Linked DNA regions of Homo sapiens: all the other regions are linked to region 2. Evidence: fine-mapped expression QTL. A gene starts in region 2. Each other region holds a variant in brackets. All regions are shown on one strand. Distances are from middle to middle.

Evidence for each region. PIP is the estimated chance that this variant, and not a neighbour inherited with it, causes the effect.
Region 1: its variant is fine-mapped to the expression of HSPBAP1 in prefrontal cortex (CommonMind, PIP 0.93).
Region 3: its variant is fine-mapped to the expression of HSPBAP1 in whole blood (GTEx, PIP above 0.99).

Annotation. Positions count from the first base shown.
Region 1 is chr3:122,884,730-122,892,913 of GRCh38, reverse strand. LINC02035 (long intergenic non-protein coding RNA 2035) reads right to left here and starts at 6,401. Exons shown (of 1, transcript NR_024618.1): 1 at 498-6,401. RefSeq lists an enhancer at 2,405-2,494. The variant A/T (reference allele first, on the strand shown) is at 5,014.
Region 2 is chr3:122,789,198-122,797,381 of GRCh38, reverse strand. It overlaps HSPBAP1 (HSPB1 associated protein 1), which reads left to right and starts at 3,551. Exons shown (of 8, transcript NM_024610.6): 1 at 3,551-3,765. The coding sequence starts at 3,702. It overlaps SLC49A4 (solute carrier family 49 member 4), which reads right to left and starts at 2,313. Exons shown (of 9, transcript NM_032839.3): 1 at 1,847-2,313. The coding sequence starts at 2,189. RefSeq lists a silencer at 1,987-2,476.
Region 3 is chr3:122,702,584-122,710,767 of GRCh38, reverse strand. It overlaps PARP14 (poly(ADP-ribose) polymerase family member 14), which reads right to left. Exons shown (of 17, transcript NM_017554.3): 7 at 6,790-7,026; 8 at 6,020-6,241; 9 at 2,500-2,578. Among named protein-coding and RNA genes, the nearest start is that of PARP14, 26 kb to the right of the region's middle. The variant T/A (reference allele first, on the strand shown) is at 4,397.

The DNA of each region.
Region 1 (8,184 bases), 96 kb before region 2:
CCCTGTGTATTATTTTATGATGGAAAAATTATTTTTAAAAATCAGGGTAAGAATTCTGTTTCCTATATGGCATTAAGATAGGTACACTGTGTGTTCACCCAACCAGCATTCATTGAATAGACGCTGAAGACTCAAGAGGGAAGGGAGGGAAGAAGGCCAGGAACACGTATGAGGCAATCAAAATGTGCCAGGAGCTTTGTGCTCCTCACTCTATTCCAACACCATAAAATCCAGGCAAAGGTAAATGTAATTATCTCCCTCCCTGATTTTATGTTTTTTAAATGAATGAGGACAGGGGATTTCCAAAAGAGACAACGGAATCCCCGTCTCCGGGCTTGCTGCGGAGGAGAAGGATTTGGCCCAGCCGCCTCTGCTTCCTTACTCGTATTTTTTTTCTCACCACATCTTGCTGCCCGAACGCTCAGGAAGCTTTGGCTCCACTTCTACTGCCATTTGGAGTTTGATTAAAAACAAAATGCGGACCACGTTATCACAAGTGCTTTCAATACATGTTTATTGCAAAACCACAAGCACAGTAACCATAATGTCAACATAACCGTATTTCCTAACGGAACAGGAGATCGCCATGCCTAAGTGCGTGCGTTTTCCAAAGAAATGGCGGCTTATTTGGAAGCTCACACGCTGCAAGTGATGACGAGAAGCCCTGTTGTGAACTAGGAGTTCTAAACCATTAAACATTTAATTACCACTTTGGCAAAGCAATGCACATTACCATTTCTACAATGGAACAGCACAGAGATTTTAAATGCATCTTTATTTTTTAGAATCTTCAGTATTCACAATGTGTAAAATGAAGCAGCATTTTAAGTAAAGCTCTATGCCAAAACAGTTTCTTAAAAAGTCTGGATTAAAAAGAAGGAAAACCACACATGAATAATATTTATCAGTGCTCACAGTTGACACTAACTATAGTTTTTTAAAAGAATAAAAATACTCAAGACTTCAACATTTCCTTACAAAAGTATACTTGGCCATAAAATAAAAATCTATAAAACCCCAAATATTACAAAAGTAAAATGCAAAAAAATTTTGTATACAAATGTAATACAATCTTTACATGGTAAGGATTATTTAAAAACACACAGAACACTTCCTAAGTGTGGATGTGCTTGGGAGCTGAACTCATCACACACCTCTGCTCTGACCATTGCACAGACCTAGCAGGTGGCAGAGCGGGTGCACGGCCCCTGGCATCAAGTCTCAGTGTTGGCAGGTTTTAAGCTCCCCCCGTACCCATTCATACTTGCATCATCTCTTGTGCTGGAGAAGCTTGCTCAGGCATATGGGGTGTCACAGGAGCTGCGGCACCTGCCTTCCAGGAGCCTGTATATAACCTATATCCTCGTGTTACTGCTTTAAAATCAGGCCCTGGAGCTGGGAGGACTCTCAAGAGACGACCCTGTCCTCTGGGCCAGTCCTGACCCACTCTGGCAGTGAGTCTACCGCAGCCTGCTGGAGCACTATTTCACCCTGGCAGTCAGAGGGTTCCACTGCAGCCATTTCTGCCAAAAACCTCTCCCAGGATGGGCCCAGATCCCGAACAGAAAAGGACTTTGTTCTTTCACTTCTTGATGCCCTCTTCAAAGGAGTCAGAGGCATCAAGTGTCACCTGGGACTGGAAAGAAGGGAAAGGGGAGGGGATGAGTTGGAATGAGACTCAAGGCCCAAGGCTGATGGGAAGGGATGGGGGTCTGTTGGGCATGCTAGGACCCACCAGCGTGGAGAGTGCTGCAGGCTCCCTCACCAGCAGAGGCCTCTACTCTGGGTTTCTGCCATAATTCTATCTCCACTGCTGGCCTTCCTGCTCTGACTGTAATGTGGTGCAGAGCCATGAAAGCCAGACAACTAATGGCATAAAATGAGGCCAAATACACCTTGGCTCGATAACAGACAGGGAGAACAATAAAGTGCTTGGGCTTTGGAGAGTGATTTTGGTTGGACAGGCTTTCTGGCTTGCTTCTAGGTATGTGACTGAGAGAATGGAGGCAGACGGAAAAGTCTGGATGGAATAGGAGATAGTAGCTTTACTTGGATCGAAATCCCCTTAGACTACCAGAGATTTCTCTGCATCCAAGAATTGGTATGAAAAGTAATTACTCTGGCAGAATGCATGAAACACAATAAAGTAGGAATAGAAGCATGCCTTCAATCAGAGAACATTTCTTTAGAGGGGTGACTGTGAAAGTTAAAGACTTTTGAAGAAAACACAGCTCTTCCCAGGCTGCAGTGGATGTCTAGATTCACACTGCGTTCTCAGAGCACAGGAACCTCCACTATGCCAGACGGGGCATCTGTAAGGCCAGCTTCCCCAGATGGCTGGTTCTACCTTCTAGAGTTTCCACAAGGCTTGGAGTCAGCTGCTCACATTTAAGAGAAGGAAGGAAGTGTGAGATGTGAGGCTGCTTCCCCACCTCCACCTCCACAACTCTTCATGCTGGGGTCCTTTGCCCTGACTTGTTCTGCCTGTTTCCCCTGTCACTCTGTTTCTTGACCCCTCCCTCCCTCACACCCTCATTCTTTGAAAGCAAGAACTTCTAGTGCAAAGGGGAGTGGCTCTGGAACTGATGACAGAGGGAGGTTGTAGAATCTCTATCCCTCGAGAGCTGAAAAGGCAGCTAGCCAGACCCTCTGCAGGCAGGATGTGCTTGGAGGCGGGAGGCTGGGCCAGATGACTTCGTGAGAATGAGCCAGCTTCAGAGTTCTGCTTTTCAGAACCTGCTTCCACCACAACTCCATGCCTCCAAGCCTCCTCCTGTACTTTGGCTTGGCACACATATTAACAAATACGTCTACAGGTCTGGCTTCTATTTCAATACTCTTCCACTGCGGTCTCACAGATCTCCTTACATGGTTCCTGTCTCTCCCTTGGTAGGAGGCTCTTTTGGCCTAATCCCATGCCTTAATGAATGAATGCTGGCAGATCTGAAATCTTTGAAAGCTTGTTAGCTTTCCCTAAAAACCTTTTCACTTATTTTCAAGCCATCAAAACAGATTTCTCTGCCTTTCCCTTCAAAGGCTGTCCAGCGGCATTTTTTTAATTCTAAGAAGGTCACACATAACTATATATTGATTAGGGACAGCATGGATTTTTAATGGCCCAAGGAAACAGGATTTAGAACATATTTTCCCAAGAAAGTAAGATCCCGTACAGGAATCAAGACAGCTGTACAGATGAGCTACAAAGCTTCCAACAGCCCTTTTGGGGGTGTTGCTGGCTTTGAGTTAGGTTTTATGAATGGACTCACTGGAATGCAAATCTGAGGGCCAGGAGGCTGATTTGTTTGCTTCTGCACCCTCAGTGCCTAGCCCAGTGGCCAGCATGAAGTGGGAGCCCAAAACATGCTGGTGAATTATTAAATTATTAGCTACAGATTCCTCAATCCTGGTTCTTTTTTAAAAAAATCTTAATACGATCTGCTTTTATGATAAAATCCATGCCTGACTTTAGAGTGTTCATTATGTTCAGATTGTATAACAAAGTAGAAAAGATCATAGTCTGCTTTAAGATGAGAGAAACAGTTTTCCTAAGAAAAATTAAAGCTTTTAAAAAAAACATGAATGAAACTTCAGGACCTAGATAACCAAGAATTTACTGGTAAAGGAATACTGACAAAAGAGTGAAAAGGTAAGGGAATCAGCAGATGGTTCAATAGAGTAACCTTTTCCCAATTAGATGGAAGGACAATTACAGGCAACAGAATATAGCACGGAGCTTCTGTGCCTAGGTGGTCTATATTAAACTTGAGTAAAAAAAGAACAAATACAGGGACTTCTCTATTCTGAGATAGAAAAGGGTCAAACATTAGGACTAAGGTATCAATTGATTTCTTTTTCCTGAAAAGGTCAAGTGCAATTGACAAAAGAGGAGGAGGGAGGCCCAAGGTAGGGATTCTTTGGGACATGGGGCAAGGATCCTGGAGCCAAAACCCAAGGGACAGCGGAGGTATGGAGGAGAGGGATGGCTTTACTGGGGATACCTGTATTACTTACTACAATGATTTCTCAGCAATAACTCATTGATCAGGAAGAGTGAGTGCAATGCGAATTAGTGAATTCAGGGAAGGACTAAGAACCACCACCTTCAACACACACACTGAACTCTACTGAGCAGGCCCTATTCTTCCTATGGCAGGTAAGATGGGATCGACTCCCTCTCATGACTTCTTCCAGGCACTTTCTGAGTCACAGACCTAAACAGAAACAGGTAGTTATGTGTGTAGGCCAAGGAAGTGATTTTGTTTGGGACTTGTGGATGCAGTGTATTAGGATGGAGGCGGGATTTTCTTAATGCTTAATTTTCACAAGCCTCCAAAATGACATATTTCTGGTGGGGAGGGAAGTAAATTCGGAACTCGGGGCATTTGTAGTAAATGAAATAATTGGCAGGAACTAAAACCTGCCCTTTTTAGCATTCTTTGGGTTTCTGCAAAGGCTCAGGGGGCTGGGACTTCACTAGCAATACATCAAGTGTGATTAGGTTTACTCACACGTATAAACTGAAGGGTTTCTGCAGTCTCCAGCCCCCAAAGTAGCCCTGCTCTATGTGGCTACCTGATATCCCAAATTCTACCATTAGAAAGCCCCCTTTTGGTATTTAGCCTTTGTTCTTGTTAGTATTCAAATTCCCCTTAGAAAGGAGACCCACAAAGCCTTATGAGTATAAGCATCTTAGCATGTATGCATTTGTTAAATTTTGTCTTAAGAGAAGGCTGGGGTACCAACAACATTCCCAATTTCCCATAGGAGTAATAACCAATTCCTCAGCCATGGAATGATGGTAGGGTTGGGATTCCTCATGCAAAAATTAATTCTGTGCCTCCAGACAGATCCAGATCTTACTCATGAAAAGAATATCAGTGGGACAGAATGTCTTTTCCTCAAAATCAGTTATGGTTTATGATTTGAGAACAATATATGGGCTCCTGTTATGCATAATTATTTGGGAAATTGTCACTAGCTCTTTGTAATTGTTAGTTCAGGAGTGTGTTTTTT[A/T]AAAAAAAACCTTCTGACTGGGCATGGTGGCTCATGCCTGGAATCCCGGTACTTTGGGAAGCCGGCAGGAGGATCGCTTGAGGCCAGGAGTTCGAGAATGGCCTGGCCAACATGGCAAAACCCCATCTCTACTAAAAATACAAAAATTAGCTGGGTATGGTGGCGCATGTCTGTAGTCCCAGCTACTCGGGAGGATGAGGCACGAGAATCCCTTGAACCCGGGAGGCGGAGGTTGCAGTGAGCCAAGATCACACCACTGCACTCCAGCCTGGGAAACAGAGCAAGACTCTGTCTCAAAACTATCTCAAAAAAAAAAAAAAAACTTCATTTTTCTGATTATCTTTCACTGCCATGTAATTGTACATATATAAATTACTCTGCATACAGAATGAATAGTATACATGGATGAAGGAACGAATAGATATAACAGTCTGAAAGTTTCCCTAATGCTGGCACCTGTAACACATCACTAACAGGGCCTTGTAGAAGTTCCTTATTGGTTTGAGAAGATAATGTATAAACTGGGAGTACTGGTGGAAAAGTATTGCACTCATGTTTTCTACTTTTTGGTTGTGTGTGACCAAGGGGTATAGATCAGAGAACTGTAAAACTTTTCAGCAAAAAGAAACATCTTCTCTGACCCTCCTATTTCAGAAGTGAGGAAGCCAAAGTTCAAAGAGAACAGATGACTTGCCCAAAGCCCCATGTCTTCAGCCATGCAGAAGACAGACGCCCAGACTTCCTGACACTGAGGTTGGTCTTCTGGTTCACTTCTCTCTCTCAGAGCTATTAATATTATGCTCACATTATAGTCACGAGGAAGTCTTGTTGGCCGGACATGGGGGCTCACGCCTTTAATCCCAACTCTTTGGGAAGCTGAGGTGGGAGGATTGCTTAAGTCCAGGAGTTCAAGACCAGCTTGGGGGAACATAGTGAGACCCCTTCTCCATAAAAAATAAAAAATTAGCCAGGGGTGGTGGCATGCGCTTGTAGTCTTAGCTACGCAGGAGGCTGAGGCAGGAAGATCACTTGAGCCCAGTAGTCTGAGGATACAGTGAGCTATGATCATGCCACTGCACTCCAGCCTGGATGACAGAGACTGTCTCAAAACAAACAAACAAACAAAAAAACCCTTGTTTACTAACACTTGAGTACAGATCATTCCTTGACATGCTGAAACTTAGCTCTTATTCTGTAAAATATCTGCACAGTTTACTGGAAGAATCTGACCATGTGGAGATGGCATCATTGCAAAGCAACTTACAATTCTTTGATGCCTTAACTAAAGATGTAAGTTCAAGGATTGGCTTTACTACCTGACCTAACAGTTTTGATTTCTACAAGTGCAAACCCATGCTGCCTCATGATGAATCCAATCAAACCAAAGGACTCGTATCTCGTTTGATCTGATTCTGGTGAGCAAATGCAGTACCCCGACCTGGCTCCCAGTATGCTATCTCAACATCAGATGACAGATTTTTCTCTTATTGCATTTGATACATTTAATAAACCCTGTGTTTCATATATAAAGTCCTTTGGGAAAATAAACAGCACCTGCAGCTTATCTCCTCCCACAGACACTGAAAAAGCAATTTCTTCTTATTGAATGTGGATGCAGCATAAGATTTCATATGTTCACGTACAGGGCTCACATGAGGGGGGCTACCGCACAAATGGAAACACCAAGGTGCTGGGCACCTCTCCAGCTTTACAGACTGCACATGCTTTGGTCATGTTCATATTTAAATAAGAATCAACTGGTATTTCTGAATTAGAAGAAATCTAAGGGAACATTTTTGCTCACTCCCTCATTTTAGAGATGTTGCTAAAGGAGAAATGAAGTGACTTGCTCAAGGTCAAATAGCTGAAGTCACCAGGCCAGGGTTAAGAGCCAGACCCGTGGGCTCCTACACCAGTGCTCTTTTTCTCTGTCCTCTCTAGTAGGGTCCATGAAGAATCTGCATGCCCGGCTCTCTCCTCTCCACCGCTGGCAACTCGTAAAATCTGGGTGTCACACAGCTCGCTCCCAAGCATTGTCAGAAATAAGAAGACACCATCAGAAAGGGGAAAGCTGGATGGGCAAGAAGACAGGAAAGGAAAAAGTGACCAAATGAAGCTGAGCTTCTGGCCTGCTACAGTTCATCATTTCTACTGACAGCTTGAAAATTAGGAAAGACACAGAAGTTGACCAGGAAACAATAAGAATTATCAGAATCTCCATTAGCTATTTTTTCAAAAAACGAAATTGCACAAGCCAGGCTGGGCAACATGGTGAAACCCCATCTCTACGAAAAATATAAAAAATTAGCTGGCATGGTGGTATACACCTGTAGTCCCAGCTACTTGGGGGGCTGAGGCTGGAGGCTTGCTTGAGCCTGGAAGATTGAGGCTGCAGTGGGCTGAGATCACACCAGGGCACTCAAGCCTGAATGACAAAGTGAGACCCTGTCTAAAAAAAAAAAAAAAAATTGCACAAGATTATTCTTTTGGCTTCTGTTTTCTATAATATTGTGTGCCTCTGCAGAGACAGGGAAGCCAAGAAAGTCCTGTGGAGGAAATCTATATGGATTTCATAGGTCGGTTACTCACTTTCTTTTCTCACAGTACAGGGAGCTTAGTTGATGGTGTTAAGAACAGAAATTGTATTTCCAGTAAGAAAACACAATAGTGCATATTGGAACTCAACTCAATAATGCATATTGGAACTCACTTTTGAACTTTAGAATATGATAAAGCTTGATGGTACATAAGCAGGTCTGTGAAACACCTACATTAACCACAATATGCTACATCTGACAGATTCATCTGGGAGAGAAATAAGGATCTCAGAAACTTCTGCTTCTGCCCATAAAGTTTATACCAATATGGTCCAAGAAAGAGATCCCTAGGTGACTCGATTTTAAATGCCCCCCGAGTTTTTATACATAGATATGTAAATGCATACACAAGTTTCTTCTGAAAGAATGAATGATGATACCCTCTGGAGAGAATGGATTAAACAGCATGTTTGTATGGAGGTAGACTTTACTTTCTATTCCTGTACTATTTTATAATAGTTATACACTCATGTATTTCTCATGTAATTTTCAAAACTCTAAAAGAAATGAAAAAAATTACTTAAAAGAATTACTTATGGCTAACACATTGATCATTTAGGGATTGAATGCTGGT
Region 2 (8,184 bases):
TTCTTTTTGAAGTGTGATACACACAAGTTCCCTTCATTTTACACATCATGATTTTTATACCCTTTATCATTCTTGTCGCAGAACCTTTAAAGTTCTGCAGTTTGTCAAATGGCCTTCTCAGAATCAAGCTCAGAACTAAACACTAATGTAGAGCCTATCAAACTATTTTGCTTCTTGTTTTGGACACTATGTTTCTATGCCTAAACTGTCCTTTCTTTTTTAGCAGCTACATTATATTGTTGATCATTAAGGAATTCACAATCAACTATTCCTTAGTCTTTTTCACATGGATTCCAATGAAGGAATTCCAGTGAAGGAGGAGAGAAGGAAGTATAACTACTAACATCACCCTGCTATTCTATTCTCTTAATAACCAACTAATTTTGAGTGCTAACTACATGCCAGACAATTGCAATTCTATACCTACCTACACTTGACTTTTGCTGAGGTCTGAATGTGTTCCCCTCAAATTCATATTTTGTTTATGTATTAATTTTTCTGAGACGAGTCTTGCCCTGTTGACCAGGGCAGAGTGCAGTGGTGCCATCACAGCTCACTCCAGCTTCGACCTCCTGAGCTCAAGCAATCCTCCCACCCCAGCCTCCCAACGTGCTGGGATTACTTGAGCCACTGCGCCAGGCCTCAAATTCACATTTTGAAATCTTAACCCTCAAAATGATGGAATAAGAAGGTGCAGCCTTTGGAAGGTGATTAGGTTATGAGGGTGGAACCCATGTGAATAGGATTACTGCCCGTATAAAACAGACCTCAGAGGGATTCCCTAACCCCTTCTTCCATCTTATGTTATAGTGAAGAGACCACTGTGTAGGAAGCAGGCCCTCACCCGACACCGATTCTGCCTGAGCCTTCATCTTGGACTTCCCAGCCTCCAGAACTGTGAGAAATAAATTTCTGTGTTTATGAACTACCCAGTTTATGGTATTTTGTTATAGCAGCTCCAGTGGACTAAGACAACCTTCCAAATCTGACTAAAGAACTCATTGCAACAAAACTTATAAAAGGTTGAACAGAAACTGTACAAAGTAGCTCCCAGGCATTATTCAATTAATAAATATAAAATCTTGCACAACAGCCTCTTGAGGGTAGACTGTCACTACTAATCATTTATCCATACTTATGTGGTAAGTATGCCTTGATTCTCAGCCCTATGGCTTTTTCTTCTCAGAGAATCACACTGGCAAGTGGTAAAGTGAGATGTCCAGGGTACCATTCTAAGCAAGCATCTTCACTCATCTGCAAGCTTTAATTGAAAGTCACAAATCTCAACTGAGAAAGCCATCTAGTCACATACACACATTTTAAAGCTGCCGAGCACCACCTTCCAGAAACCAAAGTGTCAGATCTGAGTTTCCCAATAGCTCTTCCTGGGCTGGAGTCATCTATTACACAAAACGAACTCATTATTTCCTTACATATGGGCACCGTCAATCTATTTTCCGACCTTTCATCCTCAACATCCCCATATCCCTTTGAAGTCAAAGCATCAGTCATTTTTGTCAGGTGTAAAACACATACACCGCACGTGCACGGGGATGCTCTGATGTTCACAATGTGTAAAAACTTGAACGTTTAGAGATCGCTTAAATCCCTGGTGTTGCATAAAGGGCCTTGATAAAAAACATAAATATTTGCAAGGTTGCCTTTCCATATTTGTCGCTTTGGGGACGGAGGGTTCCTAAGTCAGAAATGGAATGCTAGCAACACTCTATCACCTCACACAACCCCTATGCCGGGGCCAAGGGAGGCGGCTGGCAGGCCTGGAGCGCGGGCAGGCGCCTGCTCCCGGAGGAGAGACAGCGCGGGCTGGCGCTCCGCGACCCCTCACCTCTCTTGTCCAGGAGCCACATGAACGCGAAGCAGGGCAGGAAGCCGATGGGCCCCCACAGCACGAGCAGCGCGATGTCCCAGCTGGAGAAGCCGTAGGCCTGGCGCGCCGAGTTCTGGATGGGACCCCAGGTGTTCCAGACCAGGCCCTGAACGAACGCCAGCAGCGAGAAGAGCAGCAGCACCAGCCAGCGGCGCCCGTATACCCGCCCGGGACCCGGGACCGCCGCGGGCAGCGCCGCCGCCGCCGCCTCCCGGCTTCTCCAGGAGGCCCCCAGCCCAGGCCCGAGCCCGGGCCCCAGCAGCGGCTGCCTCTCCTCTTCGCTGCTCCAGCGAGAGCCCATGGCGACGCGTCGCCCGCGAAGCCACTGCCGGGCGCAGTCCGGGTCACCGCCGACTAGCCCAGCGCAGAATAGTCCTGAGCAGCAGGAGGCGGAGGCTGCTGTGGTCGCCCTCGGCCTCCGGACCGCGCCTGGTGCGCCTGCGCGGCCCGAGCCGGGCCGGCGGGGAGGCGGGGAGGCGGGGCAGGCGGCAAGGAGGCTGGGGTCCGCCCTCCCCTCCGCGGGTGGCGAGGAAACACCGGCGAGAGGAAAGGAGCCAGGTCCCAGACGGAGGGCAGGTAGCGCTGAAAAGGCAGGGACCAGCGCGGCTGAGTCGGGGAGAGGGAAACTCCCAGAGAGGCTGTATTCGAGGAGGTTGGGCAAGGAACCCTGGGGTGTTTGGAGGAAGTGTCCAAGTTAAATCTTGTGCCTAATAAACAACTCAGTGACCTGTTAAGTGACGTCAGTTAACCTGATGCTTGCTTCTATTTTGGGCTTATTCTCATTTTTGTTGAGTTAGTAACTTCAGAAATTATAGGCGAAGGATAAAGTTTAAGCGTAGTTGGTCCCAGGGGATTATCTCATAAAAATCATTTCTTACGTGCAATAAGTACTACCTATTTTTGTTACTTTTTTGTCTTACATATCCAAAGAGGAGATTCCAAACTAGCCAATTTCATTCATATATATGTAAACTTTACCCATTTCGCCTGCCAATAGGCGAGCAATAAAGGTATGTCCAGTAAAGTTGGAAGATTTTTGCCCCAAAGATCCATCTCCAGTGATTATGATTTGACCACAGGGTAAACGAGAAGAAAGGTGGTTGTTGATCTCTTCACACAGCTGTTTGTTTATTTTGGTATACAAATTCAGAAGCCTGACAGCTGTGGATTAGTGTCCTTGAAAACCTAAAGTCAAGCAATTTGGCTTGTCTGGATCGGGAAATGAGTCACAGGGAACGCAATCACAGGATTCTTTGCCCGAGGTTCGTATTTCCCGGCAGCCACTAAAATCAGAAGGAGTCAGGTTACCACCAGAAGGGCAAGAGAGGTGTAAGAGAAGCGTGAGCTAGCCTCGCATTCCAGGCTGCCAAGAGCGGCTCGCGAAAGCTCACGGCAGAGACCCATCCCACCGCCGGAGCCCCACTAAGCGGCAAACCTTCCCCTAAAACTCCAATCCTTTAGGGTGGAGAAAAGCCGAGGTGGAAAGGAAGGATCTGACTAGAAAAGGAGAAACAGAAACGAAGCTAAGACTACAATAAAGAACGCTAAGGTCCGGGTTAGGTAAAAAGCGCCACAACTCAGACCACGTGTTTGTATTTCCACACCCGGGGTATCAAAACAAAGCTGCGTGGTCCCGCCCAGCATCCGTCACGTGACCTCCACGTGAGAGCCGGCGTTTCCGTAGGAGCCGGGCGGGAGTCGCCGGGGCTCCTTCCTGTGGTGCAGCTTCGGGTCTCGGAGTTTGGCCCCTACTCTGACCCCACCCCAGCTCCGCTCCGCCTTGGGTTCCGGCAGAACCCGCCTTGCGGTAGCCATGGCAGCAGGCTCCGAGGCGACCACTCCTGTGATCGTTGCGGCTGGGGCTGGAGGGGAGGAAGGTAGGTGCCAGGCTGAGGTCCGACCCTGAGTACAAACCCAATGCCAGTTGACTCTCGTGGCACCCCTCGTGGGGCCGTTTGCCTTAGCCCCAACCCAGGTCTCTCTGGCCTTGCATTAGACTATGAAGAAAAATCTATATTTTCTAGTGAGCGTGGCATTTCTCGAATTGTGGCATCCAGATTTTTGATCGTCGTAGGGTAGCCTACGAGTGCTGTTTCACGCATGGGGTGTTATTTTTGTTTTGTTTTGTTTTATATTTGCCCATCATTAGCTAAATAGAGGTGTTTTGAACGTTTAGAGGGGATTAAAATTAAATTTGTGAAATTGAAGGCAACCTTTGAGATTAATGGAAGTTATCTGAGACTTTTGTGAACAGGGATTATGCGCTTTTATTCTATTTCAGTGAACCCTGGTTTAGCAAGTGGGGATGAGGTTTGGAGGCCCATGAGCCTGAGATCCCTGTTATTATTTATTGAATGATTGCACCGTGCAGGGCTGTGTTCTGAATACTGTCGCAGGATCCAGAGACTTTTGAATATTTATAACAATACCTTTTCCAAAGGAGCCTAGAAAGGAAAAAGAATGACTTACTATGTGGTCACCTGAACTATTCTACCAGTAGTACACTCTGTGAGGGTTGTTAGGAGGAGGGATCTCAGTGGGGAGAACATAAATGCTTCAAGGAGCGAATAGTTTGAGGTCGGCCTTTCTTTTTCTTTTCTCTCTTTTTTTTTTTTTCTTTTTTTGAGACGGAGTCTCGCTCTGTCACCAGGCTGGAGTGCAGTGGCGCGATTTTGGCTCACTGCAACCTCCACCTCCCAGGTTCAAGCAATTCTTCTGCCTCAGCGTCCCAAGCAGCTGGGACTACAAGCGTGCCACCACGCCCAGCTAATTTTTGTATTTTTAGTAGAGACGGGGTTTCACCATGTTGGCCAGGATGGTCTCGCTCTCTTGACCTTGTGATCCGCTGAGGTGGGCCTTTCTGATTGGATGAGATGGTGACAAACTCAGGGAGTGGTGCTGGGGTTCAGGAAGTCAGGGAGCAGAAAAGGATGGATGTATTTAGGGGTCAAACAGTTTGCTGAAGGGGGAGATGCCCATTCCAAGCAGAAGAAACAAATTATAGCCTCCTACTATCTGACCACTTTCTACCAGGGAGACAATTCTTGACCTTCATCTATACCTCCATTGCATTGATCTTTCCATTTTCTATCCACTGCACCCCCTTATCCAGAATGTATGTCGTTCCTTTGAAAAATTCTCTTGTCCCTTCCTGCACTTTTTTCTGACAAAACTCTTACTCTGGATGAAGTCAACCTTTTGCCCTCTTTGTACCTGCACCCGTGGGCCTGAACTTTGCTGGAAAAAGTCCTGCACAAACTGATGACCGTATAAAGTGAAAATGGCCAAACTCTTGAATATTCAGTCAGTATGGGCTTGAGATCCCTCTGATCCTCTGTTTCTCTAGTGAGCCTGCTAACGTTCTCCAATGACAAATTCCCAAACTCTATAACCTCTCTCTGCCTCTTTCTTAATTTCAGGTAATGACTTTGCAAGTCAGGTCAATTCTGCATCTAATCTGTCTACTTTTTTCCTTTCACTATCAGACCGTACTTCAAATCATCCACATTTTCTCACCTCAACTACTACTGTATCTTCCTGACTGACTTGTGTCTCTGTTTTCTATTCTGTGCCCCTCTAATCCCTTCTCCACTCTGCAGCAAAAAGTGACTCTTCCTTATGTAAAATTCTTCAGCGAATTACATTGCCCTTAGAAGTTAGAATAAAACCCAGATTCTTAACCGTGGCCTGTAATAATCCTTGGTCTGGGCTCTGCTGATGTCTTTAGCAGGATCTCTTGTCACTCACCTCCCCTTTGGCTTTTCACATAGCTGGCTTAATCTTTAGCTTTTAAAGTATGTCACCACCTGAGACCTTACCAGATCAAACTATTTAAAACAGTCACTGTGATTTCTCTTGCACCCCCCAACCCTAGATGTTCTGGAATACAGCATCCTGCTTCTGTCATTTTACTTACTACAATCTGTAATTATTTATTATTTGTTTTTTCCATTAGATCATAAGTACCTTGAGGGCAGGACCTATGTCTGTTTCATTCTCTACCATGTGCCCAGCTGCTAGTACAATGCCAGGCACATAGTTGGCACATGCCACATGTTTGTTGAGTGGATGAATAAGGGCACTCCATGCCAAGTCCAGAGGCAAAAGGAGAAAGCATGGCATGGTCCAAGAACTGAAAGAAGTTGGTGTCAGGAGTGGTAAGAAAAGAGGTATCCTGAAGGTTACCTTAGGCCTAGTTAAGGAATCTAGACATTAAGACAGTAGGAAGCCTTAAAGAGCTTTAGGTGAGGGAAATAACATGATTAGATTTGGTTGTAGGAAGATCACTTTGGCTGAAGGGTAGAAGACCGATTGGAGGGAGAAAGACTGGAGGACAAGGTACTTAATCCCTTTGAGCCTCAGTTTCCTCCTCTGTAAAATGCATGATTATTGTGAAGATTAGAGTTAATATGTGTAGATTATCTAGCATAGTATCTGGCAGGAATTGGATATTCAAGAATCGTGACCATTTTTATTATTAATAGAAAGTGCCAGCCTTAGTAACTGATGTTGAAACTGAAAGAAAAGAAATTAGAGATGTTATGTAAGAGAATGAGAAAAATAAATACATTAAATAAAGTCAAGTGAAAGGGTCAGTATGTTCAGTACAATGATGAATACAATGGGAGTCATAGAAAAGTTCATTTTTAAAATTTTTGGTTTATTTTTTATTTTTGTAGATACAGGGTCTCACAATGTTCCGTAGGCTGGTCTCGAACTCCTGGCCTCAAGTGATGCTCCCACCTCAGCCTCCCAGAGCACTGGGATTTCAGGCATAAGCCACTGTGCCCAGCTGAAAAGTTCATTTTTGAGCAAACTTATTCCATTATCAAAAAATATTTGAATGGCACATGGTAAACAGACCTTTTTCATGTGGTAAAGCAAAAGACAATCTTTGCCCCAAAATAATTATAAATATCATTTTTGGCAATAAAGACATAGATAAAAAGAACAGTAGTATAAGACATATCCTAAAGGTCAGATGTAATTAGCTGGGATATGATACTCAATATGATACACATTAAGTACTTTGGAGGCTGAGAGGAGAAGGAACTAATAGAAATTGGGTTGGTTTGTGCTTCCTAGGATAATTTCTTGAAGATGAGCCAGGTGAGGATACCAATTCTACTAAAGTAGAAATAATGACAGAGAACCTGGGTGAAAAAGGGGAAGACTTGTATCCATTGAATCCAGAGAAGAGCAGGGTGAAAACAGAAATGCTGAAGTGACGAAGAGGGAAATCATGGGTTTCAGTCTTTGCAGAAAAATAGAGCAAGGTACCACAAAAGTAAGGAAGTAGAGAAAGGTACTGGAGATTTGAGAGTGAAGAAGCATCCAGGCATGCTGGTGCATGCCTGTAATCCCAGCACTTTGGGAGGCGAGGCAGGCAGATCGCTTGAGCTCAGGAATTTGAGACCAGCCTGGGCAACATAGTGAAACCCTGTCTCTACGGAAAATACGAAAATAAACTGGGCATGGTGGCACACGCTTGTAGTTCCAGCTGCTTGGGAGGCTGAGGCACAAGAATCGTTTGAACCTGTGAAGCGGAGGTTGTAGTGAGTTGAGATCGTGCTATGGCACTCCAGCCTGAGCAACAGGGCCAGACCCTGTCTCAAAAAAAAAAAAAAAAGAAGCTTTGGCATGATTGCCATAGGGTTGCGGGTGATTAGGAGTGATAGGAGTGAGTCAGTGCTTGGGAGCAGGAAAGGGTAACTGGTAGAGGTGAGCATAAAATCGTGGAACTAATCACCTTGGTTATGCTTGATAGCTCATTCTACAGAAGTGGAGAAAACAAGTGCTTAGTTTCAATAAAGTTTTATACATTGCTAAAAATCAGGTATTCTTATACAGTTATTTGAAAGAAACATTTGTTTAGCATCATTTTATGCTAGGCACTGGACTAACCTCTAGGGAGATAAAAGTAAGAGGTCTGCCTTCAAGAATGTGATATTGTTTGTTTGAAATAACAGCTTAGAAATAATTAAAAACAAACATGAAACTACTTATTGTTAATTAAGAATTAATTTAAATTCTGAATGTGAAATGTTACTCTCAGAATCATACATAGATTGAAGCATTCAGTGAAATTAAAAATTGCAGTTATTTGAGTGTGATTCTATCTTTCAAACTGAGGTTATTATATTTCTCTCTATTGGGCTGTTTTTTAGTTTTTAGTTATAGCCAAGATTATTCCTTGATAAAGAGGAGAATGTGTTAGTAACTCTTCTTCCAGTGCTTTCTGAGGAAATATCTCATCTAGAGTTGTATGGAATTGATTTTCACTTAGAACTAACATT
Region 3 (8,184 bases), 87 kb after region 2:
GGAGGTGAAAGATCTCTACAAGGAAAACTACAAAACACTGGTCAAAGAAATGACACAAACAAATGGAAACACATTCCATGCTCATGGATGGGAATTATCAATATTGTGAAAATGACCATTCTGCCCAAAGCAATCTACAGATTCAATGCAATTCTCATCCAAATACCAGCATCATTCTTCACAGAACTAGAAAAAAAATCCTAAAATTCACATGGAACCAAAAAAGAGCCCATATAGCCAAGCAAGACTAAGCAAAAAGAACAAATCTGGAGACATCACATTACCCAACTTCAAATTATACTACAAGGCTATAGTTACCAAAACAGCAAGGTACTGGTATAAAAATAGGCACATAGACCAATGAAACAGAATAGAGGGTCAAGAAATAAAGTCAAATACTTAAAACCAATTGATCTTCAGCAAAGCATACAAAAACATAAATTGGGGAAAGGATACCTATTCAATAAACGGTGCTGGGAAAACTGGCAAGCCACATGTAGAAGATTAAACTGGATCCCCATCTCTCACCTCATATAAAAATCAACTCAAAATGGAGCAAAGACTTACATTTAAGACCTGAAACCATAAAAATTCTAAAAGATAACATTGGAAAAACTCTTCTGGACATTGACTTAGGCAAAGAATTCATGACTAAGACCCCAAAAGCAAATGCAACAAAAACAAAAATTAAAAATGGGACCTAATTAAACTAAAAAGCTTCTGCACAGCAAAGTAATCAGGAGAGTAAGCAGACAATCCACAGAATGGGAGAAAATATTTGAAGACTATGCATCCGACAAAGGACCAGTATCTAGAATCTACAAGGAACTCAAGCAAATCGCAAGAAAAAACAAACAAACAAACAAAAAAAAAAACAAATAATCCCATCAAAAAGTCAGCAAAGGATCTGAGCAGACATTTCTCAAAAGAAGGTATACAAACAGCCAACAAACATAAGAAAAAATGCTCAACATCATTAATCATCAGGAAAATTCAAATTAAAACCACAATGAGATGCCTCCTTACTCCTGCAAGAATGGCCATAACTTAAGTCAAGAAACAATAGATGTTGGCATGGATGTGGTAAAAAGGGATCACTTTTACATTGCTAGTCGGAATGCAAATTATTACAACCACTACGGAAAACAGTGTGGAGATTCCTGAAAGAACTAAAAGTAAAACTACCATTCAATCCAGCAATCCCACTACTGGGTATCTACCCAAAGCAAAATAAGTCATTATATGAAAAAACATACACACACATGTTTATAGCAGCACAATTTAAGATATGGAACCAACCTAAGTGTCCATCAACCAACAAGTGGATAAAGAAAATGTGCTGTATATACACTATGGAATACTCTTCAGCCATAAAAAGGAATGAAATAATGTCTTTTGAAGCAACTTGGATGGAGCTGGAGGCTATTATTCTAAGTGAAGTAGCTTAGGAATGCAAAACCAAACATCCTATGTTCTCACTTATAAGTGAAAGCTAAGCTATGAGGATGCAAAATCATAAGAGTGATATAATGGAATTTGGGGACTCCAGGGGGAAGGTTGAGAGGGGGATGAGGGATAAAAGACTACATAACGGGTACAGTATATGCTGCTCAGGTGACGGATGCACTAAAATCTCAGAAATCACTACTAAAGAATTTATCCATGTAACCAAAAACCACCTGTACCCCCAAAACTATTGAAATAATCATAATAATAATATATTGCAAATGAAAATAAAGTTCAAACTTTAAAGAATTTAAAAATTTAAAAAAGAACCAAATAGACATTTTAGAACATACACATACGTATCTAAAATAAAACATTCACTGGATGGGCTCAATAGCATAGAGGACAGAGAAAAGACTCAGTGAACTTGAAGGCAGGTCAAGATAAATTATCCAATCTGAAGAACAAGAGAGAAAAAAGATGAGTGGGATTGAGGGGGGTAGGCATGGGGAGAACAGCTCTGCAGAGACCTTGGAACACTGTCAAAAGGCTTAGCACCACAGTATTGGAAAACAGAAGGAGATATGAAATAGATCAGTGCACAAAAAAGCATTTAAAGAGATAACTTAAAATTTTCCAAATTTGATGAAAGACATACATTTTTATATTCAAGAAGCCTCGGTGAAACTCAAACAGGATAAACTCAAATATGGCATCAACAAATTTGACAAAGGTGAAAGATTTGGTGAGTATTGTCTCTCAAATTTGTCTATTTTGGAAAATACATGTCACATTCTCCTCAGGAAATGGTAGTCTTGTCATTACTTAAAACCCATTATACAGATTACATAACTTGGCCTGCCTTCCCTTTTGCTTCAGATTATATAAACATGACCAGTGTCTTACATGCTCAGGTATATGAAACATAACTTAGTATCATTTGTCACTCATTGATTTTTTTTTCATAAAAATTATCACTACTGTCTTTTACCTGCCAATGAACAGTTACTTAGCAACTAGAAATCACTTCTCAATTTAGAAGCTTTACTGAACCTTGTGTATCTTTAGCCTTCGGAATTTTGTCACTGACGAGATTTCCATTAGCCCTTCTGGCAAATTCATCTGAAAATGCCTGAAATATAAACACAGCGTTGATCATTACACTCCTCAGTAAATGAATAAATTGGAATCATCAGGGTGTTTTGTCCTGCATGCACACATACATATTTGGGAGATAACCATTCTCAAACAGTATTATTTAATTTCATTGCAGATCTTGAAAGTTATAAAAACAACACATGATTCTGTTTCTATAAATGTGTCTAATGAAAATATCAACGATGTGGACAACGATGTGGATAAATACAAGGATATTCACTACAGTGCTATTCATAACAGAGAAAAAACAGTTAAAAATTCAACAGGGAAAAAGTTAAATAAATGTTGCTGTATCCATGTGTTGGAGTATTTATTAGCCATTAAAAATCGTATTTTCAAAGAATTTTTTAAATGAGGTCTTGCTGTGTTGCCCAGGCTGGGGTGTCGCCCAGGCTGGAATGCTAGAGGCGTGATCACAGTTCACTGCAGCCTCGACCTCCTGGGCTTAAGCAATTCTCCCACCTCAGCCTCCCAAGTAGCTGGGACTATAAGTATATGGCACCACACCCAGCTACGTTTTTTGTTTTTTGTGTTTTTTTGTTTGTTTGTTTTTTGTAGAAACAGGATCTCCCTATGTTGCTCAAGCTGGTCTTGAACTTCTGGCCTCAAGTGATCCTCCTGCCTTGGCCTCCCAAAGTGCAGGGATTAAAGGTGTGAGCCACTGTGCCCAGCCTCAAAGAAGATTTAGTGAAATAGAAAATAAAAGCGAAGGATATTAAATAAAATAATTTATAATCACAATCCTTTATTTATTTATTTATTTATTTATTTATTTATTTATTTGAGATGGAGTCTCATTCTGTCACCCAGGCTGGAGTGTAGTGGCACAATCTTGGTTCATTGCAAACTCCGCCTCCCAGGTTCAAGTGATTCTCCTGCTTCAGCCTACTTGGGAGGTAATTTTTGTATTTTTAGTAGAGACGGGGTTTCACCATGTTAGCCAGGCTGTTCTCCTGACCTCAGGTGATCTGCCTGCCTTGGCTGCCCAAGGTGCTGGGATTACAGGCATGAGCCACCGCTCCGAGCCAATCCCACTTTTAAAAGTACATATGTAAAAAAAAGCAGGCTGGAATAAAATCCAACTAAAGAATTTATGCATTTTGCATTGTTCAAAGTTTCTACAATGAACATGAATTACCATAATGGTCAGTCAAAGCAAATAACTTGCCAATTGTAAAAACTACAATGTTAAGAGAATGACCATCACAAGGTCCCAAACACTTCCGTTTTTAATTTCCTATTTGTACCAAAAGAGGAGGGGCTGAGGAGTCATGATTTTTGGAGCAAGTAGCTGGTGTATGTATTCTAGTGTTAATAAACCTGTGAATTTCATTTTTTTTTTTTTTGCCTGTTGGTGACCCTCCATAATCATCATTTTCTTCCTCCTTGTAAACAAGCAACAGATAATTTTGTTGGAAAAAAAACAAGTAACATCTTGGCTAAAGATAGATGCAATAATGGGAGAAGGAACCAGAGAGAGGGTAGAGCAAAGATCTCAGACTCACAGGCTTCTAGGAGCCAGGTAGGTAAGGCACATGTGTAAAGGTGGTCTGATTTGACTATGGAGAACTAGAGAACACCTGCCACTCAGCCATGGAAAACTTCCTGTCCCAAGCAGGAAGCCATGTTTAATGTGCCAGAAGTTTTGAAGTTTTAGGTTGTAGTGAATATCTAGAGTTTTATGTAAAATTTTTGATTTTTAAATGTTAGCAACTGATTGAAATTTTTTTTTAATAATCTAAATAAAGCACATCTAGAGGCCATGTTCAAATCACAGGACTGCTGCTTTGCA[T/A]CCTCTGTGACAGTCTCCATCTATAAACATCTCGATAAGCTTTGCTGATTTTTTTGTGCAAATGTAACCAAAGTTTAACTGTCTTTAAAAGTCTAAAGAGAAAAAGTGTAACAGACACATACAGAGAATTTCAAATGGTACTAAAGGCATCTGTATAGACTAATTCTTTTTACAGAGTATTTGAAAAATACTCAGTCTTCAGGAAAGAAAATGAATGCTGAGGTTGCATGAAAAAGAGTGATATTTGAAGGTTCAGGTCTGTGTCACAGGACTCATGCTGTATTCAATCACCCATGCATTCAAAAACAGCACTTCATGCCTCTCATTTAGTTCATTTTGTGTATATAAATCTTAGCTCCAAAGTAATTGTGATTTATAGGAGGGAAAGTATGTGCTATTCCTATTCGTCCTGTTCCACGATCCACATCACCTTGCACAATGCAAGTCATAGGGAAATTATTTTAAAAGCTTCTGTTGCACAGAAGAGTAACTAATTATACGGGACAAGTAAATGGACCACATATTTTACTCAGGTGGTTTGGCTGCCTGATCAGAATTCAGGTCAGATTTACTTGCTTCCAAAGAACTTATAGGTAGTATCTAGCATCACAGAAAAATGAAGCATTACCTAAAAATTCAGATGGTCCAATGATCCACAGGTATCTCTTGGGTTGCTGATCTTAATCTGTTTGATCAATTTTTGCAGTACCTTGGGAGCTTTTCAAACACTGAATGTCATCTACTTTATTTGATTAAGTAAAGACTCGGAGTGCAGGGATAATGGCTTAAAAGCCTGTTGTGCTGCCATAATGCTGAGTCCAGTGGCTCTCCCACAGCTGATGTGAGCTGAATCATGAACTCATGATTGATGATAGTTCTGGTGTTTCTGGTCCCAACTCTCCTATTTACATGGGAATGTGCTAATCCATTCTAACCACACCTTCTGACATCTTCCTATTGATAAGGCCAGACTGTGCTTTTATACTATGTATTAAAATTTCTATGTCCATATGGAGGGAAATCCTATAGTCAACTCCATTGCAATATGTGGGCCTTATTTGGATTCTGATTCAAACACAAAGCTGTAAAAACAAAACGTTTATGAGATAGTCAGAAATTTGAGAATTGATTTGATAATTGGTTAAAGGAATTATTGTCCATTTATTTTAGGTGTGATACAATATTGTGGTTATGTTACTTTTTTAAAAAGAATTGTTATTGTTTAAAATAAATGTTGAATTGTTTATGGATAAAATGATATGTCTGAGATTTGCTTCAAAAGAATATAGAAGGAAGGGAAATAGATGAAGATAGAGATGAAACATATTGGCCATAGGTTGATAACTGTTGAAGTTCAGTGATAGGTACAAGGGACTGCATTATACTATTATGTCTACTTTTGGATATGTTCAAAATTTTCCTGAATAGGAAGTTAAATTTTTTCTACATCTGTAACTTTTCTTAAAATTTGTCATGCTACAACTACAACTACAAGTATAAACTACCTTCTTACTTTCCTGAATGGGGAAATGAATGAAAAAAGTATCCTGTTAGACCAAAAAGACATTTGAAAAAACACTAGGTCTCAGTTGCCAAAATAATCAGAAATTAGTGGCACTGTACCTGAATATTTTCATGATCACTCGGGTGCAGCAGAAAGTGAACCTCTTGTAAAGTTTTCAGCTGATTCTTGCTACTAAATTTGAACACCTCTGAAATGATTAATTCAGCGAATATGTTTTTAGGAAATCCCAAGTTTCCTGTTCCTATTGCTGGAAATGCAATTGATTTTAAGGACAAGCTCTCAGTGATCTCCATACATTCTCTGATTATGTCTTCCATTATCTGAAACGCACAAAGCACATCCTTATACATCTTGTCTAGAAATGGGAGTTAGAACAAAAAGGACAAGAATTTAGCAACTTTGTGAACTTGAATACTCCTTTTTGCTGTCAACACTGATTAAGGGCAATCAGAAGAGGAAAGAAAAATACAGGAGAAGGCAAGGAAAAGGAAAAGAGAATGCGAGAGACTTAAACACATTCACAATGAAGGAAAGAAGCAAAGCAACTACTGTTCTTTTCCTTCATTCTCTTCCATTCTTCACACCCTCCTCTGGCTTTCTTCACTAAGCAAGCAATAATATTATCTTCAGTAACCCTTCCCTGAGCTCCAATAATTATTGAGCACAATAATCCATTTATAGTATTAACTAGTCCTCAGGAGAAGTCAGCTACAGCTGAAAGAAATGGCCACATGATGGAATCTGCCAAAAGAGTGATTATTATGGAAGAGAAACAGACAAGGCCCAATCTATGTCCAATTAATATGCTACTAAAAGGAGAACCCAAAGGGCTACCCAACTTCATGGAGAATTCAAAACCAGGCCCAACCTTGAGTGAAGATGTGCTACCATTTCTCCACTCCGGAGCTACCACGTGAAGCACATAGCGACAGTCCAGATTCCAGCTGCTGGTTTTGAGCACTGTGCCCATGCTGACAGCCACCCCTTGTCCAACTGTGTCCAATTCCTCCTGGAGCTCTGGTCCAGCTTTTTCCAAGAGGGACTTAGAAAGAGGCCCTCTACTAAGCACGAGATCCAAGGGAACGGAGTTGACAACAACATCGGTCTTAAAGACAAAACCAAAAATTTGTTTCAAATTTTAACAAAAAGCATTCATCAATGATTACTATATTTGAGGCACTGGGCTTGGCACAATTGGAGACAACTAAGATGACTACGGTTTCAGTGATTGAAATATCAACATAAGACAAAGTGTGACTAAATACTTATTGAAGTGACACTTAGGAAAAAAAGAGAGCAGTCAAAAAGTAATCTATGAATGGTATGGCATCACTGAAGGAGTCCAGAGAAAGCTGTTTCAGTAACTAGTGAAGATACCATGGGCAATGTGGGGTTTGAGAAATGGGAAGAATTTCAGCAGGCAGAGCAAGACAGGGAGCAGCATGAACATAGGCATGGTGGGTTGTGAGCTGTGAACAGATTAATTTGATCTGAGAGAGCTTCTGCAGCAAAATGGTATGCTCCAGGCTAGAAATGTTACACTGGGGGTAAACTAGGGGGCCCACCTCGAGTGCCAAGACATCTGGACTCCCTGACAGAAAGGGAGCAGCCCCGGAAGCTTTTTCATCAGTGAATGTGAGCAGATTAATCGGGCTAGATTAGAGAGGTCAAGAGAACAGAGGAGAGGGAATGTAACCAAGTGATTTTCAAAGCTGCCCTGCCTGGGTCACTAAGGAGTAATGCAGAGCAGTTATTACAGCCATGGAAGCTAAGCATCTATGGGAGTGAAAGGAAAGCAAACTATGACTGTTTTTTGTTTTTTGTTTTTTTTTTTTGTTTTTTTTTTTTTTTTTAAGAGAGAGGGTCTTGCTCTGTCCACCCAGGCTGGAGGGCAGTGGCATGATCATAGTTCACTGCAGCCTCAAACTCCTAGGGTTCAAGTGATCCTCCCACCTCAGCATTCCGAGTAGTAAGGACTACAGGTATGAGCCACCATGCCTAGCTGGGAAAGAATGTCTTGATATTTGGTGTCAAAAGAGACAAGGAATGAAATTCATTCCCATAACTGATGCTTGGTCCAAAGAGTTTTTATTTAATTTTTTAAAATGAGACACAACATTATTTTTAACATTTTGAAAGAGTGCAATGGTTAAGAGCCTGAACAAATTCCAATCCTGGCTCTACCATTTGCTAGTTGGGGGATGTGGGCAAATTACCTAACCCCTTTAAGTCTCACTCCCTCATCTGTAAAGTGAGAATAATA